2 separate regions of the Homo sapiens genome follow, and region 1 is linked to region 2. The links come from fine-mapping of genetic effects on gene expression. A gene starts in region 2. The other region holds a variant in brackets. All regions are shown on one strand. Distances are from middle to middle. Region 1 overlaps TTC34 (tetratricopeptide repeat domain 34). Region 2 holds the start of TNFRSF14-AS1 (TNFRSF14 antisense RNA 1).

Region 1 (5,359 bases), 240 kb before region 2:
GCTTTAAGAAATGGGATGGGCAAGGTACTGCTCCAGCCGGTGATCAGGGAAAGCTTCTCAGGAGAGGAATCATTTAGGCTGAGAGTGAGGGTTCCAGGCAGCAGAAGCAAATGTGCCAAGTCCTTAGGGGAGCAAGAGCTTGGGCTCCCCCTGCCACTGAGGGGGCCAGGGCGACTGTCGGAGGGAAGGGGAAAACGAATGGGAGACTGAAGATGGCAGCTGTGGGGCTAGATCCTCCTGGCCTCCCAAGGCCCTTGGATGTTACCCTCAGTCTGTGAGGCTGAGCTGTGGAGTGAGGTACTCTGAGCTGCATTTTTTTTTTTGAGATGGAGTTTCATTCTTGTTGCCCAGGCTGGAGTGCAATGGGGCGATCTCGGCTCACCGCAACCTCCACCCACTGGGTTCAAGAGATTCTCTTGCTTCAGCCTCCCGAGTAACTGGGATTACAGGCACCCACCATCATGCCTGGCTAATTTTTGTATTTTTAGTAGAGATGGAGTTTCATCATGTTGGCCAGGCTGGTCTCAAATTCCTAACCTCAAGTGATCCACCTGCCTCAGCCTCCCAAAGTGCTGGGATTACAGGAGTGAACCACCGCGCCCGGCGCCTGATCTGCATTTTTAAACTTTCCTCTGGCTGCCATGTGCAAAATGTGCCAGAGGAACCAGAGTAAGGACAAGACCTGCTGGGAGGCTGGGAGGCTGGGGGGCCGGGAGGCTAGGAGGCTGGGAGGCTGGGAGGCCGGGAGGCCGGGAGGCTGAGAGGCTGGAAGTCTGGGAGGCTAGGGGGCTGGGAGGCTTGGAGGCTGAGAGGCTGGGAGGCTGGGAGGCTAGGGGGCTGGGAGGCTTGGAGGCTGAGAGGCTGGGAGGCTGGGAGGCTTGGAGGCTGAGAGGCTGGGAGGCTGGCAGGCTTGGAGGCTGAGAGGCTGGGAGGCTGGGGGGCTGCGAGGCTTGGAGGCTGAGAGGCTGGGAGGCTGGGGGGCTGGGAGGCTTGGAGGCTGAGAGGCTGGGAGGCTTGGAGGCTGAGAGGCTGGGAGGCTGGTGGGCTGGGAGGCTTGAAGGCTGAGAGGCTGGGAGGCTGGGGGGCTGGGAGGCTTGGAGGCTGAGAGGCTGGGAGGCTGGGAGGCTGGGGGGCTGAGGGGCTGAGAGGCTGAGAGGCTGGGACGCTGGGGGGCTGGGGAGCTGAGGGGCTGAGAGGCTGGGAGGCTGGGAGCCTGGGAGGCTGGGTGGCTGGGGAGCTGAGGGGCTAAGAGGCTGAGAGGCTGGGAGGCTGGGGGGCTGGGGAGCTGAGGGGCTGGGAGGCTGGGAGGCTGGGGAGCTGAGGGGCTAAGAGGCTGAGAGGTTGGGAGGTTTGGAGGCTGAGAGGCTGGGGAGCTAAGGGGCTAAGAGGCTGAGAGGCTGGGAGGCTGGGGGGCTGGGGAGCTGAGGGGATGAGAGGCTGAGAGGCTGGGAGGCTAGGAGGCTGGGGAGCTGAGGGGCTGAGAGGCTGGGAGGCTGGGAGGCTGGGGGGCTGGGGAGCTAAGGGGCTAAGAGGCTGAGAGGCTGGGAGGCTGGGGGGCTGGGGAGCTGAGGGGCTGAGAGGCTAGGAGGCTGGGAGGCTGGGGGGCCGGGGAGCTGAGGGGCTGAGAGGCTGGGAGGCTGGGAGGCTGGGGGGCTGGGGAGCTGAGGGGCTGAGAGGCTGGGAGGCTGGGGGTACTGGGGAGCTGAGGGGCTAAGAGGCTGAGAGGCTGGGAGGCTGGGGGGCTGGGGAGCTGAGGGGCTCAGAGGCTTGGAGGCTGGGGAGCTGAGGGGCTAAGAGGCTGAGAGGCTGGGAGGCTGGGAGGCTGAGAGACTGGGAGGCTTGGATGCTGGGCAGCTGAGAGACTGGGAGGCTGGGACAATGGTTCAGGAGAGAGTTGATGGAATTCAGATCAGGGAGAAAGGGTTGCAGAGAAACCACATGTCTGAGAGTTAGAAGTGACGAGATTGTGGGTAGATTTAATGGTGGAGAGACAGGCACAGAGAAGGAGGGTCAGGAACGTTTTCTGAGTTCATGATGAGCAACTGAACTGTGGAGGGAAGCGCGGATGGGAAAAGGGGTGTCAGAGGTTTAGACGCCCCCAGTTTGAGACACTGCTCCTGCCCGGTCCCTTCACTGCCTCTTCCTTCTGGAGGAGCACCCAGGGCCACAGCCCAGCCTACTGCCAGCACTCTGCCACCCTCGGATCCCTGAGTGCCTGAGACGAGGCTGCGTCTCCACCCCAAAGGCTGCTGTGTGGATTCAGTAAACATGCAC[A/G]GCAAACCCTTAGAATAATGTCACCTACTGAGTGCTTTACACACAGTCCTTTGAGCCCATCAAGCCTCATGTCATTAGGCAGCCAGACAGGTGAGCCCTGAGGTGAGAGGAGCTCAGTTTGAAAAAGGGGGGTTTAGGGTCAGTGCAAATGAGAGGTTGAAAGTCAAGGCTCCCGACAGAGGCAGGAAGTGGGGCCACGAGGCATCCTGGAGCAGACAGGACCTCCCTGGCGTGAGTGTCCTGCAAGGCACTGCGGCTCCCTGCCCTTTCCTCGTGCCCCAGCCCCCATCCCAGGCCAGCAGACATCTGGAGGTGAGGATGGCAGTATTAGCTGCCGTTTACTGAACAGCTAGTGGGTGGGCCCCATTTGATGGGTTTGATGTGCATAATCATGGAATCTGCAGAGCAGCCACCATCCCCATGAGACACGGGGCTGCCAAGGGCATACGGAGTGCAGGCAGCTAGGACCTGGCCCCTGGGGTGCTCCTAACCGCCCTCCATACTGTGCTTCTGGGGAGGAGCAGCCCAGGAGGACAGGAAGAAGGAAGAAAATTCGGAGCCCGTGGGGTGACGGATCAGGGCCAGAAGAGAAGGGGGTTTGCAAGATAAAGACAGGTAGGCAGCCCTGAGAGTGGCCACAATGTCCGTAAGGAGAGGACAAGGAGTGTGCGTTGGGCGTGTGGTGCCGAGGTTCTTGGTGACCCCAACGAGAGGGTGGGGCAGGAACCAGTTAGAGAGAGCTGCAAAGTGAGCAGGAAAATTTGTTTCTGGAAATATGCTCAAATATGTTGAGCATTACCAGAAAATGATCAACAAAGTCACACCGAATCGTGAGCTTCTGAGGAAGGAGGGGACCCCGGGTGCCCAGAGCACAGGCACTCAGGGGCTGGTGAGGACCATGCCCACAGCAAGGGGGCTCCAGGAGGGAGGGGGCCTTCCACTTTAATGATCACGCAGGGGCAGGGCATGACTTAAGGGTGTGGGTGGGGGTCACACTAAAGCTCTCTGCAGAAATCCAGAACCCCCCAAGTGTTGCAGGCTTGGGGAATGTGAGGGAAGACCCAGCTCCTCCAGGAAGGCCACCGGAAGCTCGTCTGTGTCTGCCGTGGCTCTGGTGTGTACAGGGAACACCTGCCCTAAGAATTGTGCATCCATTAGACCCAAGTCACTTCGGTCAAGGGACTCCCCACATCGCCAGCACCAGCACAAGCATGGCTTACGATGAGAAGAGAAGAAATGAATTTTCCTATAACAGACTTTTTACAGATGCAGTTTCCTGCAACAAATGACCTTCCATCTGGAGGTTACTTTCCAAAGTCCTTGGAAACATTGCACAAACCAGTCGCTCCATTTGTGCTGCTGTGACAGAATGCCACGGGCTGGGTGATCCATAATGAGTAGAAATGAATGAGCTCCAGTTCTGGACGCTGGAAGCCCAAAACCAAGGCCCCAACAGGCTTGGGGATTCGGATTCCAAGATGGCGCCTTGAATGCTGCATCCTCACTTGGCACAAGACAGAAGAGCAAAGAGGCGAAAGGGGCTGAACTTGCATTAATCCCACCCACAAGAGCAGAGCCCTCATGGCCTAATCATCTTCAAAGATCTGACCTGTCAATACCATTACAATGGCAGTTAAGTTTCAGCATGAGTTTTGGAGGGAACAAACATTCAAACTGTAGCAAAACCCTTCTATAATCTGGGAACTTTCTTTGCCCTCTTTAGTAAGTAGACATGCAGCGATACACGATGTATGAGGACAAGATACAGAATAAATACCACTTTCCCTCAAGGTAGCTGCTAAGTAAGCATCCAGGTACCATGGCTCCCTACGTGTTTGTCTTACCAAAGGACTGGGATGACCACTTCCAATTTGTTTAAGGTTCTTCATTAAGAGCGCTAGGAAAGGTGACAAAGCATAGCTGTGATTCCTGCTTTCCTCCCAGCAAGATGCAGGGTCTGTTCTCCGTACAGAATCTGGCATGGCCTTGTGCCTTGCTGGGACCAGTAGAATATGGTAGAAGTGATGGCTTGTGCTTCAGGAGCCCAAGCCTCAGAGGCCCCACGGCTTCCACCTTCACCTTGGAATTCTCCCAGGGCCATGTAAGGAAGCTGGAATCATGACCAGTGAGAGAACACACAGACAGAGGCTCAGCTGACAGCCATCACCAAGGCCCCGGACACATGAGTGAGGCCACCTTAGAGTCTCTTGTCCGGTAAAGCCACTGGATGGCTGCAGCCACCTGAGTGACCCCTGGTAAGACCAACAGAAGAACTGTCCAGCTTAGGCCAGCCCAAACTGAGGAATAATTATGGGCAAATATAAATGGTTGGATTTTCCTTTTTGAGACAGGGTCTTGCTCTGTCTCCCAGGCTGGAGTGCAGTTGTGTGATCATGGCTCACTGCACTCAATCTCCCAGGCTCAAGCAGTCCTCCTGCCTCAGCCTCCCAAGTAGCTGGGACTATAGGTACACACCATCACAACTGGCTAATTTTTTTTTTTTTTTGTAGAGATGGGGTCTCACCACGTTGCCCAGGCTTGATTGTTGTTTTAAGCCACTAAGTTTTACAGTGGATGGTTATGCAGGAATAGTTAGCTGAAATAACTGCTGACCAGGTCAAAACATCAGTTTTGATGCATTTTAGCCAACATTTCGTCAAATATTATAATATAGAACTTAAAATTTTATGTTTCCAGAATTATATAATTCACTACATTAATAATTAATGGAATAAAGAACATATTATCATTGCAGTAGATTCAGAAAAACTGTTTTATAATATTTCACATTCCCAGAATTTTAACAATCAAGAAACAGAAGAAAACTTACTTAATTGAAAAAGATAATATCTATCCCAAACCCACCATAAATATCATACTCAATGGTGACAATTCAGAAGCCTTCCATTTAAAATCAATTACGAGGAGGCTGTGCACTCTCCCAGTTACTCATCATTGTGCTAGAGATCCTAGCCAATGCAATAAGGTAAGAAAACAAGACAGAACATGTAAGACCAGAAAGGAAGTCACAAAGTTATAATTATTCCAGGCAATATGATTAGCTATGTATATAGAAATTCCAAAA
Region 2 (5,312 bases):
TCACCTGCCACCTGTGCCCCCACATCCTCAGCCCAAGTAGACAGGTGCTTTCACAAGAGGGGAGGGGCATGGAACTGGGCATGCAGGTTGAGGTGTGAGCCCCAAATCCCAGCCTACATGCATGAACCCCCAAAGCACTCCAGCTTCCTCTTCTGTTCATGGCTAGCCCACCTGCCCTGTGCCTCCCTGTAGGCTCAGGCCCTGCCCCCAGGTGTGCCGTCAGCCCTGTCCCGCAGGTGCAGTCCTGCCTGGCCGCAGGGAGCACTGGCCATGCTGAGCCTGGCATGAGGCTCCAAGGGGACAGAGCCGTTGGCCGCATGGACAGGCTCTGCGCTCAGTGACTCAAAGGCCACCTCTGGGTCTGGTTCCCCTTTCTGTCTGCCTGGACTCAGGTGGGCACCAGCCTCCAGGTGACCTCTTCCCCTGAGGTCACAGGGGGAACCAATATCTGGAGGAGAAAGGGACAAGAAGCCCTGTGGGGAAGCAGCAGGCCCGAGTGCCGGCCGGAGAGTCCCAGCACCATCCCATTCCACTTTGCAGCTAGGGACGTGGGCACAGGAGAGGTCTGGGCACCCACCCCGGGCACCAGAGGAGCCAAGGACGAGGGATAAGGGTCAGTCGCCAAGCTCAGGATGGCCCACCTGGCGGTGACAAAGTGAGAGGTGAGACAGAGGTGGACGGGGGCCGGAGGCTGACCTCAAGGCGTCCCCTGCAGGGTGCATCCATGGAGATGGGGTTGGGACCTGGCCTGGGGCAGCCGGGGCCTTCCTGGGGCACTGTGGCCATGGAGAGAGGGTGCAGGGTGCGGGGGCATCCAGGCTGCCCAAGCGGAGGCTGGGCCGGCTGTGCTGGCCTCTTACCTGGGTCACACATTTGGCACTGCAGACACTTGCTTAGGCCATTGAGGTGGGCAATGTAGGTGCCTGGAGGGCAGGGTTCACACACTGTGCCCGTCAGCTCCCCGCAGGCCTCCTTCACACGATAACCTGCCGCCCAGAGAGTGGGAACTTCGCAAGTCTGCGGGAGGCCCCTTCGGGAGCCCACCCATCACTCCACCCGCGCCCAGAGCCCAAGCAGGGAGACACCAGCTAAGGGGACTCAAATGGCCCATGAGCCCCACGGGACACAGCAGCCCCATCAGCCATGAGCAGAGCTGCTCTGGGGAAAATCGGAAAGTTCTGGAAGCACATGGGGCCTCCTGGGACACCTGGCCCGGCTCTGGTATGTGCCCCCGAGCCCATGTCTCTGGCCACGGTGGGCCAGCCACGTCTCTCAGACCCACCCCCTGTGCAGTGTGACTGTGAGGGTCCCCCAGGGTGAAGAGTCCAAGCTGCTGGCCTGGGGGTTCTGCCCTCACTGTCTGCACACCTAGCCCCAGGGCTTCATCACACCCATGGCTGTGGGGGCAGAGAACACAGGGGTGTCTGGGGCAGAAGGGGGCAAGAGTGTCTGCCCTCGGCCCACAGAGCTGGCCCGCCAAAGGGCTGCACCTACCTGGACTGCACTTGGGGCAGCACTCGGAGCCCACTGGGTACTCGTCCTCCTTGCAGGACGGCAGAGCTGGGGCGTAGCAGGGGGCTCCCAGGAAGGTGAGATACAGCACCTAAGGGGGTCAGGACAGGCATTGGGAGATGCCCTGGCTGCCCTGTGGGCTCTGCCAGGCTTGGCCCCACAGCCTGAATCTCCCTCTGTGCAATGGGGAGGAGCGGCAGTGCCTGGTAGAGAGGACAGAAGCGGGCCCCAGGCCAGGCTCATGGAACAACCTTGCCGACCGCTGGAGCCCGGGATAGGGTGGGGACCGCCCCTCCTCCAGCCCTGATGACGCTGCCTGGCAGCGCGGAGCCCTGGGAACTGGAACTCTGCCCTCGCCAGGGACCCCACACCCCACACCTGGGAGCATTGAGCCCACTGGGCAGACAACCTGCCGGCCCCCCTGCTGGCCTAGGTTGGACCTGCTGACCCCTGAAGAGCCAGCAGGGGCAGCCAGGGATGGGCCCCAGAGGCTCACAAGCCAGACAGTGGGTGACAGGCTGATCAGGGCCACATCGGGGAGGGTGGCTCTGCCGTGGCCTCGTTCCTGGGCTGGCTGATGGGCAGTCGGGGGCCCCTGATGGGGATAGTGGCTGGACAGGCAGGAGTGCCACATGAGCATGGAGAGTATCCCCACCCCACCCACCTGGGTCCAGCCCCCTGCTGCACACTGATCTTATCACCTGTCACCAAGGTCAGGGCTGCCGGGGAGTTGGGTCACCTGCTCGAGGGCCCCGCCCAGAGACGCCCAGAGACACCCAGCCCCCAGAAGTGCCCACATCCGGCCAAATGGGGGCTCACCAGCTGCCCGTGGACGGAGTGGTGAGTGGGGGACACACGCAGGAGGAGGTCTGCTGGGTAGGGCTGTGGCTCTGCTGCTCACCCCACTGTGGTGAGCCCAGTGCTGGGGGTCTGGGTTGACCCGAGAGCCCCAGGCAGCAGGGGACGGGCTGGACGCCGGAGCCAGCAACGGCCAGGACAGGGGCATGGGGAAGAGATCTGTGGGAGGCCCTGGGGTCAGAACTGGGATCTGCGAGCAGACGGAGAGGAGGCTCGGGGGCTCACCAGCCTCAAGACGTCGGTTTTGGGGGTGGATCTCCAGGGAGGAGGCCCCCAGTCTCCAGGAGGCTCCATGCCTCAGGCTCAGACCGGCAGCTCGGGAACCCAGCTAGCAGGATGAACTCCAGCAGAGGAACTCAGCGCCATTGCTGCGGCTGTGGGCCAGAAGAGAAAGAGAAAGAGAAAGAGAATCCGCCTCGGTGTGACAAGCTGTGCCTCAGAACCCGAGCAGCAGGAGAGTGGGCAGCAGGGGGTGTCTGGCAGCAGAGAGGGGCTCAGGCCTGCTGGGTGGAGCGGCGCTGGGGGACACAGGTGGGCCCTGCGGGAGGCAGGAGCTGTCCAGGCAAAGCCGAGGGGAAGGGCCGGTATGAAGGAGGCGCCCGATGGGAGGGGCGAGTTCTCCCCCTGCACCATTCCAGTCCACTCCGGGTTTCCTGTAGAAGGGGGAGCCCCCCAAAGTCCATCTGTGTTTCCCCACCTCACTCACACACTCAGGGACCCTCGGCTGCTCCCCGGGGCGCTGACTGACATTTTTGCCGAATAAAGGGGCCCTGTGGGTTTCCTGTTCCCATCTCAGCTTCTGCTGAACAGGGTAAACTTCCCTTCCGAATAAAACCACCAGAATGCGGTCTGGCCAATTTCAGTCATAGACCCACCAGGCCTGTGTCCCTGCGTGAGGGGGTGGGAAAAGCCCAGAGTGCCCCTACCCGTCCCCTGGGAGGGGTGGAAGGGCAGCTCTTGCTCCCCCTGCAGAGACGCTGCGCGGACTGGGAAGGCTGCCAGCCTCGCCCGGTCTCCCTGTGGACCCTGCCCTGACCCCACCCCAGCTTCCTGGCTCCCTGCACCCCACTGGGCTTCCCTGCCCCACAGAGCCTGGTGGTAGGGAGACCTCCGGATGGAGACAGCCCACAGTCCCGGAGCCCCAAGGCAGGCACCAGTGAGTCCCTCGTGACGGCCTCGCTCCCTGCATCACATGGAACCTCGTGACCCACGTGACGACGCCAGTGCCCCCGTGGCCCCTTCCTGCTGCTGGACGTGATGCAGTCAATGGAAGCCCAGGTCTGTCACGCACCGCCTGTGCTTGCCCAGAGCAGGTCCCAGTCACCCCCTCTGGCACCGCCTGCTGCACACCAGGAACCCCCACCTCCAGCAAGCCCATCTGCCAGACGCCTGGCCCAGGACCGCCCCCTGCCCCTCGACTGCCCCCTGCCCCTCCTGGTCCTGACTTCAGCCAGGTGACCCCCTCCAGGGTCCAGCCCTGGCCCCTGGGGGACTCAGTGGCATCTGGTGGAAAGGACCTTGGGGATTGCGCCCACCCTCACCTGCAGGAGAGTTGGCAGGGTGGCCAGCCACAGGAATCTGTGGCAGGAGCCCGGGGACCTGCACCCCAACTAGAAAGTGTGCAGCCCTGCAGGCCGGCCCTGGAGAGGGAGCAGGCAGGGGTGAAGTTAGGCCGGCTGTGGTGTGCGACACCGTCCTGTGGGGCCAAGCGTCCCGAGCTCCAGAGGCAGGTGCACTCCTGGCCAGCATCCAGGGTGGACGAGCCCAGACCCCAATACTCTGAGGCAGGGTGGGGGACCAGGTGGCACCCAGTGGAGGAAAAGCCCCCAAGAGACACGCAGGAGCATGGACTCCCACCCCACAGCTGGAGCCTGGGAGAGGAGCCCCATCTGCTGTTTCCCTGGTGCACTCACATCCTGGCCCTCAGCGCCCCCTGCCAGGAATGTCCCCCACATGCAGAGCCATGTGGGTCTTGCAAGGAAGAAGAAGGGGGCCCCTTGCATCCTCCACTCCCGGGGGCCCCAGGAGGGCATGGGGGCTCCAGGGTGCAGGGACAGCACGTTCCCTCACCAACTCCCCAAGAACGCCCAACCTCCAAGAGCAGACACAGCGCCTACACCTGCCGGTACGGGGCTCCAACCCCACTCTCTCAGATACGTCCTCCAGAGTCGTCTCATCCACCCCACCCTGGGGAGGAGGGAAACTGAGGCATGGCAAGAGACAAGACTAACACAGGCATCAGTGAGACTCAGCCCCTCCTGCCCCTTCCTCCATGCCCCTCCTACCCCGACTTCAGCTCCCACACCAAGGCCCCAAGCCTGACATAGGGCCCCAGGTGCCAGGCCTCAAGGGGGCTGAAGGGAGCCCATCTGCCCCACCGAGGGCACAGACAGTGCCAGGTCTTTGCTGAAATGTCACCTCTTCCTTGAGGCCTTCTCTGATTGCTGAGTAAGCCCTGTCCCCGCTCCCTGCTCCCCGTATCCGCCCGCCTCGGCCCTCCGTCCCTTTTCTCCCTTCTCTGTGGCCTGCCCGCTCTCACAGAATGCAGACTCCAGGGGTCCAGGGTGTTACCTCCCGGGCAGCAGGAGGAAATGTCCTGGGCTCCCCACCCAGCGCTCAGCGCCCCCCGCTAAGTACAGCACTCACTCCTTCATCCATTCAGCGTGGGCTCTCCCGGCACCAGCACCGCCAGGCCCTGTGCAGGACCCCAGGGTCATCAGGAAGGAAATGAGGCAGCCCAAGGAGGCGGGAGACGGGGCCCTACCCAGCACCCAGCCATCTGCATTGACACGGCTGCCCGCAGGATATCACTGCCCCCATCCCGGGGCCCACCATTACCAGCAGGGAGAGGGAGGCAGGTGAGCACCCCGAGCCCCACGCCTCCTGTCGCGGGGACTCCCCAGACCCAATGCTGTGCCAGTGCAGGCCAGGCAGGGGGCTGA

What was found. PIP is the estimated chance that this variant, and not a neighbour inherited with it, causes the effect. A credible set is the group of variants that fine-mapping cannot tell apart.
Region 1: its variant is the best candidate, but not a certain one, in a credible set for the expression of TNFRSF14-AS1 in whole blood (INTERVAL, PIP 0.67).

The regions. Positions count from the first base shown.
Region 1 is chr1:2,794,508-2,799,866 of GRCh38, reverse strand. The region is part of intron 2 of TTC34 (tetratricopeptide repeat domain 34); the gene reads left to right. Among named protein-coding and RNA genes, the nearest start is that of TTC34, 4.5 kb to the left of the region's middle. The variant A/G (reference allele first, on the strand shown) is at 2,275.
Region 2 is chr1:2,554,017-2,559,328 of GRCh38, reverse strand. TNFRSF14-AS1 (TNFRSF14 antisense RNA 1) reads left to right here and starts at 2,318. Exons shown (of 7, transcript NR_037844.2): 1 at 2,318-2,352; 2 at 2,633-4,605; 3 at 5,033-5,228. It overlaps TNFRSF14 (TNF receptor superfamily member 14), which reads right to left and starts at 2,958. Exons shown (of 8, transcript NM_003820.4): 1 at 2,596-2,958; 2 at 1,495-1,603; 3 at 861-986. The coding sequence starts at 2,664.